Linked DNA regions of Homo sapiens. The protein of the gene in region 2 purifies or fractionates together with the protein of the main gene of each other region. This does not show direct contact. Each region holds a gene or a part of one and is shown on either strand. Other genes may lie near its edges.

Evidence for each region. The genes of interacting proteins can lie anywhere in the genome.
Region 1: the proteins of LDLRAP1 (region 2) and KLC1 purify together in Homo sapiens (affinity purification with western blotting, with the first as the bait; one study listed by BioGRID). This does not show direct contact.

What each region holds. Positions count from the first base shown.
Region 1 is NC_000014.9:103,670,575-103,674,222, reverse strand, and holds part of KLC1 (kinesin light chain 1), read right to left. Parts: intron 1,210-3,648; coding exon 1,036-1,209; intron 892-1,035; coding exon 792-891; intron 1-791. UniProt on the Homo sapiens protein: Kinesin is a microtubule-associated force-producing protein that may play a role in organelle transport. The light chain may function in coupling of cargo to the heavy chain or in the modulation of its ATPase activity.
Region 2 is NC_000001.11:25,560,502-25,564,149, reverse strand, and holds part of LDLRAP1 (low density lipoprotein receptor adapter protein 1), read right to left. Parts: intron 1,507-3,648; coding exon 1,434-1,506; intron 1,081-1,433; coding exon 997-1,080; intron 490-996; coding exon 359-489; intron 1-358. UniProt on the Homo sapiens protein: Adapter protein (clathrin-associated sorting protein (CLASP)) required for efficient endocytosis of the LDL receptor (LDLR) in polarized cells such as hepatocytes and lymphocytes, but not in non-polarized cells (fibroblasts).

The DNA.
Region 1 (3,648 bases), on a different chromosome or scaffold from region 2:
CGGTATGGTTTGAAATCTGTAAACCAAAGGCACAGAAGGAAGGAAAGACATTAAAAATGTGAAAAGATGAATTTGGGTGATTCTCCTGTTTCCATTTCTGCATGAATTGGGTAGGTCTCTGCAATGAGGACATGAAGATGGATTTGGGTGATGCTCCTGTCTCCATTTCTGCGTGAACTGTATAGGTCTCTGCAATGAGGACATGTTATGGGCTCTGGGCACTGTAATCCCAGTCTAACTGCTTCTCAGCTACGGGGCCTCACACAAGTCACTTAGTCTGTGGTGTCTTTTTTTTTTTTTGAGACAGAGTCTCACTCTGTTGCCCAGGCTGGAGTGCAGTGGCACGATCTCGGCTCACTGCAAGATCCGCCTCCCGGGTTCACGCCATTCTCCTGCCTTAGCCTCCCGAGTAGCTGGGACTACAGGCGGCCGCCATCACACCCGGCTAAGTTTTTGTATTTTTAGTAGAGACGGGGTTTCACTGTGTTAGCCAGGATGGTCTCGATCGCCTGACCTCGTGATCCACCCACCTCGGCCTCCCAAAGTGCTGGAATTACAGGCGTGAGCCACCACGCCCGGCCTGTGGTATCCTTGCTTTTAAAATGGGGTAATGTTTGACCCGCTGCACAAGACTGCTGTGAAAGTGAAGTGAAATCACACATTTAAACTATTTAGCTTAGTGATGTACAAAGTTAAGTGCTTAATAAACAGTAACTAATACTATTAGTATATTACTATTAGTCAAGTCATTATACAATTAAATTCACTTGAAACGGGAGTATATTTCTTACCATCTACAGAACCAAACTCCCTTTCATGTGCACGAGTGAGAATCTCTTTGTACAGTGTTTCTGCTTGCTTGAACTTTCCTTGTTTCAAATAGCAGGATGCCTTAAAATAAAATAAAATAAAATATTTCATATCTTTCAGATGTAAATAAAGCATACATTTTAATCTCCAGTTAAATGAGAAAGTGTTTGGACTTGGGACGAAAGCACTCCTGGCCCCCTCCCTAGTGCTGTGCAGTCAACACACCAGGTTATTTTTCGTCTTAGCCACGTTGGGGTCATCAGGTCCCAGTTTTGTCTGGTAGATCTCGAGGGCTCTTTGATAATAATATTCTACTTCTTCATACTTGCCCTGGTTCTGGCACAGTAAGGCCAAGTTATTTAACTGCTTGGCAACATCGGGGTGATCCTTCCCCAAAACCTGAAAATAAAAAACAGCATATTAGAGACACTTGTTCTGCTTCCATCCAATCCATTCTCCACCCTACTGTCACATCAGGATCTTCCTCAACATAAGCACGACTGTGCTACACTTTCAGATTTAAATCCTTAACTGGCTCGCTACACCACGTAGTAATAAAATAACCAGAATTTCTCAAATTCTTATTCATGAGGGGAGGGAGGGAACTGTGCTCATCTTCTTTAGCTGTGTTAATTACTGTAGTAATCCTTCATGGTAGTTATATTTTTGTACATTGGTTGTACTATGTACAAATGTACACATTAGGCACATTTTGAAGATAAGGAAATGGGCTTTGTAAAGGCTATGTGAGTTTTACTGCCAGCTTCTGAAGAGCCCACAGCTGTCCCAGTTGCCCAGGATGCTCTTCTCCTAGCCCTCCCTACTAGCTACGACTTATCCTTCAGGGTTCTCCTCAGTTCCCCTCAAAGGAGACTTCCCTATACCACCCCACCTCACCTAGTGAACTCACAGGCACATCACCTGGTTGTTCTTTATAAGAATCACTTCTCTAAACTACCTTGAATATTTTTTATTACAATGTAAGCCCCAAGAGTATAAATTCTTTGTCTCTCTTCTTCACCAATGTAATCTCCGCATCGAAAAAGGGGTCTGGCACAGAGATAGATGAATGAACACTAACCTCCTCCCTCAGTACCTTGAACAAGTGATGAGTTCTCTCCGCTTTGTGCCTTTACACATGTGGTCCTCAGGGAGGTAAGCTGCCTTTCTACTCCCTTCTGCATTCCCTACCTCCCCCTGCCTAGGACACTTTTAACTCAATTATTCAAGATGCAGTTCCAACACCGACCTTCCCTGAGAAACCATCCCCAACACCCCCTGGCTCTGGCCCGCAGAAGCCCACACTTCATATCCTCCCAGAGCTCTCTATTCTAGATGCTGATGTGCCCTCTGCGGTCCTCAGTCTGTCCAGTGGACTGTGTCCTAGTGGGAGGAACTACATGTCTGATCTGTAAATCACCAACTCTAAGCAGGGGGCTCTAAATGAATGAAAGGGTAAATATATGAATGAATTTGGCAGGTCATCTTATATGGTTCCTAATCCTTAATTTGATACTTTTGTGCTCTCCCTGACTTTAACTCCAGCCCACCCCAAATTCAACCATTCTATTTCAGAAATATCATGCAGATTGACAGCATGATAAAATATTACCTGTATAATTTGATAAGGAGCCCCTTTTTATTTTCTCTCCCCCAATTCCTTGCCATGTGGCTCAAAATTAACTGATAAGAATCACTGATAAATAATCACAAAAAATACCAGGTTAAAATACCATTTGTGCGGCTGGGTGCAGTGGCTCATGCCTGTAATCCTAGCACTGTGGGAGGCTAAGGCAGATGGATCACCTAAGGTCAGGAGTTCTTGGCCAGCCTGGCCAACATGGTGAAACCCCATCTCTACTAAAAAATACAAAAATTAGCCGGGTGTTGTGGCACATGCCTGTAATCCCAGCTACCCAGGAGGCTGAGGCAAGAGAATTCCTGGAATCCAGGAGGCGAAGGCTGCAGTGAGCCGAGATCGTGCCACTGCACTCCAGCCTGGGCGACACAGCAAGACTCCGTTTCAGAAAAAAAAAAACACAATTTGTGGTCACTCATCGGATAGACCCAATACCCGAATCTTCATAACATCTAAAGAGATTGTCATACACAGCACTGCTGAAATGAACAAGTTGTTATATTTTTTAATACCTAATTACCATGAACTGTAGCAGCTGGTATTAAATATATATGACATTGACTTAATCTATAGCTCTGAGTTAATCTTTAGTTATAATAATAATTATTTCATTTTTCAGCTTCATAAAGCATATTTGGTGAATTTATCTTTAATCATGTTTTTCTTATTGACAAGCACATGTTCCACTGTCAAATGCAATGCTCCCAGGCTTTCCATCTCTAGTCCTCAGACATGTCTTCTTCAATCAGAGTCACTTCTAGGCCATATCAGGCTTGGACAGCATCAGACTCAGGACTGCACCTTTCTAAATGCACACGCCTCATAACTGGACCTTCTTTTCTTTTTTTTTTCTTTAGAGACGAGGTCTCACTATGTTACCCAGGCTGGTCTTAAACTTCCTAGGCTCAAGTGATCCTCCCACCTTGGCCTCCCAAAGTGCTGGGATTACAAGCATGAGCCACTGCACCCAGCCTGTAATTGAGTCTTAAACACTGATTTGTATGGGCCAATCTGGCTTTGTTTTGTGGGCTATTCTCTAATTAAATGAGTTGTTTTCAGCTAATAGTCAGTTAAAAACACATCACAGTGGTTATTTCTCAAAACCTAAAACCGAAAAATTTTTAAAAACACAAAAAACAGCGCCGGGCACAGTGGCTCAGCCTGTAATCCCAGCACTTTGGGAGGCCAAGGCGGGCGGA
Region 2 (3,648 bases):
CTGGGTCCTCATTCAGGCGGCTGAGGGGGAGGGGTGGTAGGAGCGAGCTCTGCCACACCAAGAACAAGGGCGCCTTTGGCTGGTCTTGTGGTGGGCAGAGCCGTGGACGCTCAGGCCAAGAGGCCAAGCATTGTGAGGAGACAGCTGTGCTGGGAGCCAAGCCTGTTGGGGATGCAGCCTCAGGTTCAAAAGGGACATTGTTCATCCCCTATCCTGCGCCTGGGCACTACCGGGCTGGGTCTGGTCCTCCCAGAGGCCCACAAGTCACGGGTCCCAGGGCCTGGTCCCTGGAGCAGCCCCAGGCTCACCCAGAGGTCAGGCTGAGGATCACCGATCTGCTGGCCACACAACCACTCACCCAGACAACACTGCTGCCACTCAAGGCTTGTGGCCGCGGCACCTCGTCCATGTTGGTGGTGTTGGCGCTGACCGTGGACAGCGGGGCCTTAGCTGTCTCCTCTAAGTCCAGCAGGTTCCCAGTGGCGACCACTGTGAGGGATCCGGTCAGGTTGTCAGTGGGAGATCAGCCTCTTCCTTCCTGGCCCCCTCCCTGGGCTGTCCTGGCCCTGACCCTCCCCTCTGATGTGGCCTTGCCCAGGCCTCCCAGCAGAGCCCGGCCCTGGCACCTCCCCACAGCAGATGCGCAGCTGCCCACAGAGTGAGAACCTGACTAATGGCTTAGACTGAAACTTTTGTATTCACAATAGTTAAGTTTTCTTAAGCAACCACACAATACTATGTTAAGTATATAGAAAGATAGACGCATATTTATATATTTGCATAGGGACATATCTAGAAGAAAATGTACTAAAATGAGTTATTTCTTCCCCTTATCTACATTTTCTAATTGATCTGTAATGAACGTGTATTATTTATTTAACAAAACACAAGTGAAAAACCAAGAGGCTCTCCCAGCCCAGGCAGGAGTGGGACCCCCCTGGGTGAAGCGCAACCCCAACACCGCATGGCCAATCCCCCTTCCCCGTCAGGACTCACAGCTCTTCAAGGAGGGGGTGCAGTCTTGGCGGGCCCCCAGGACGTCCCCTCCCTCTTGGCTGGCTTTGTCCCTCTTCTCTTTCTCTGCAGGACCAAGGCACAACATGTTGGAGCCTCAGACCCCAGCACTCTGTCCCCAGCAATCACCGGGCAGGGGTGATTAGCGGTGGCCAACCTCAAGGGGCAGTTTCAGGTTTCCAGCCGGGAGGAAAGAAACCTTTCGGATGTCAGTTAATCCTCACAAGCACCTTTGGGGAGGGAGACGGCTGTTCCCATTTTTCAGATGGGAAAACCGAGACTCTGAGCGGTGAAGGGACCTGCTCACAGTCACAAGCCAGGTGGGTGATGAGGCAGGAAGTCGGTCCAGGTCTGACCCCAGGGCCTTTATGTGTCTCCCCACCTCCCACCACACCCACAATGTAGATGCAAAGTCTCACCTTCCTTGGACACCTGCCAAAACTCAAAGGCGACTTTGAAGGCCTGGGCTACGGTGAGGGTAACAGCCTGTGCCTGAAAACAGGAAGTGGGGATGGGGAGGGGTGCAGTGTCAGCCAGGGCAGAGCAAGTCTGCACTGGAGGGCTGGGGCCTCCAGGCCAGGCCCCCTGGCTCCCTCCCTGCAGCTTCTGCAGCTCCATCCCAGGCTCTGGAATGCCTGCTGGGCAGAGCAGGGTCCTGGCCCTTCCCAGGTCTCCAAAGCAGCCTGGGGTGTCATAAGGCCATAGCCTCGCAGAGGCAGTAGAGTCCCCATCTTTACTATCTCTGGCCCCACCAAAGTTCTCACTCTCACTCTAGGGCCCCTGCCTGCAAAGGCTGTTCTTCTCCAGGTCTTTTCCTTCCCCTTTGGGCTTCCCTGAATTCAATGAACTGTGAGGCTTACTTCCTCCAAGAAACCCTCCCTAATTACCTGTGGACTTAGCCCTTGGAATTGGAGAACAGAAAAGCCAGAATTGGAAGGGCCCAGCCATTGCCCCAAATGAGCCACAGCCAGAGAGGTGAAAGTTAGGTTCCGGTTGGGACCATAACTGGATCCCACAAAGAGAGTAGAAGGCTTGTCAATTTCCTGATAGGAGCAAGATGTCAATGAAGGCCCGGGGACCAAAACCGGTCAGTGCTATAACCCACCTGTAAGGAAGGGCCACACCTCGGCCCTTCACCCCAGGGGAACTCTCCCTCACCCCTCCAAACCCAACTCAGATGTCACCACCTCTCCTGTCACCAGTCCCAGACTCCTCGAGCCCCACCCACCTCCCTCTGGCACTATGCATGTGAAAGTGTCACTGGCTCCCCTGCCTGTGTTTCCCCCAGCTTTGTGCACCCTAAAAGCAAGAATCAATCTGAACACCCCTGCCCTCGGGAGCAGGCCAAAGCCTCCCAGAGGTGGCAACAATGCTGGGTGAATTACATTCACCTGAGGTGCAGGCCTCATTCCACCCAGGACCTATCCCCAGCCCATATTCATCTCAACACCTTCCTCTCTCAGCCATTCCAGTCCAGGGTTAATCAGCTCAGCTTCTGGGAGTGGAAGTCCCAGAGTTCGTAGCTATAGCCGGAAACATCTAGCTTCCTTCTGAAGCCCTGGCTGAGAGAAGAAAGCACCAGCCTCTTTCAAGTCTACAAGTTCAGGCCTCACCAGCCTCAGCCCCGCTCCCTGCCCTCCCCCAGACAACTCAATTTAATTGAGAAATGGACCTGTGGCCACTGCCTTTAAAACTCCTTTTAAAAAAATATTTAAAATTCCTAAACAAACTGACTGATCCGTGCCAATTACACTTCACGAAAGTATAAAACCTCATTTGAATGTCTCCAACATTTACATTTTTGATGGAAGTACAGGCACTTTATGGCAAAACTTAAATATGGTAATTAAGTATGAAACTCTTCGCAGCTGTTTACAATTTAAGCTGTCATATCTGAATCAAGTTTAATAGACCCAGTTACCATTGAGAATTGCCCATGAACTAAAAATATGGGCTAATTACCAGCCCAAGTCAGATCACTATCCACCCAAGCAAGGGCTGGACACCCAATGTGGCAGGGATATGAAAACGCCATTATTTAAGCCTGCTGGAAATCTGGAGACACAAGCTTAGACTGTAGTTGCATAAATCTGATTGTTCACTTGCATACATTCCTACCTTTTTGCCCTGAAGTCCCAAGCTGTAAGTTAAACTGAATACAACCCAAGAGGTGGATGTGTGCAGGTAGCTGCAAGCCCAGGCTGGGCAGGGACTGGGAGTGGGGTGGGCCCTGCTTCCTGGGGTGGCTGCAGGGATCCGAGGACCAGCATTAGGTGGAGGGACTGCTCAGGCCTGCCCAGGCGGGATGCCCACCCCTCCTGACTGCCTCTGGCCTTCGGGTCTGCCTTATTATCCTGAGTGGATGCTACCTTGCCCAGTTTTTCACATTCCTTGTTCCCAGGAACCAGGCTGCTCATGGCTCAAAAGGGGCCAGAAACTCAAACCAAGACAGCCACATGCCCCCCAGCAGCCCTGCTGCCCCAGAAGCAAAAACCTTGCACAAGGATCACTCCAAGATGCCAATGGTCATGGGGGAGGGAGCAGCCTGGCCCCGTGCTGCCTGGGTGGAAATGGGGGTAGCACTTTGCTTACCATCAGCCCAGGCCCAGCACCTGCATGACACCTTCACTTTGG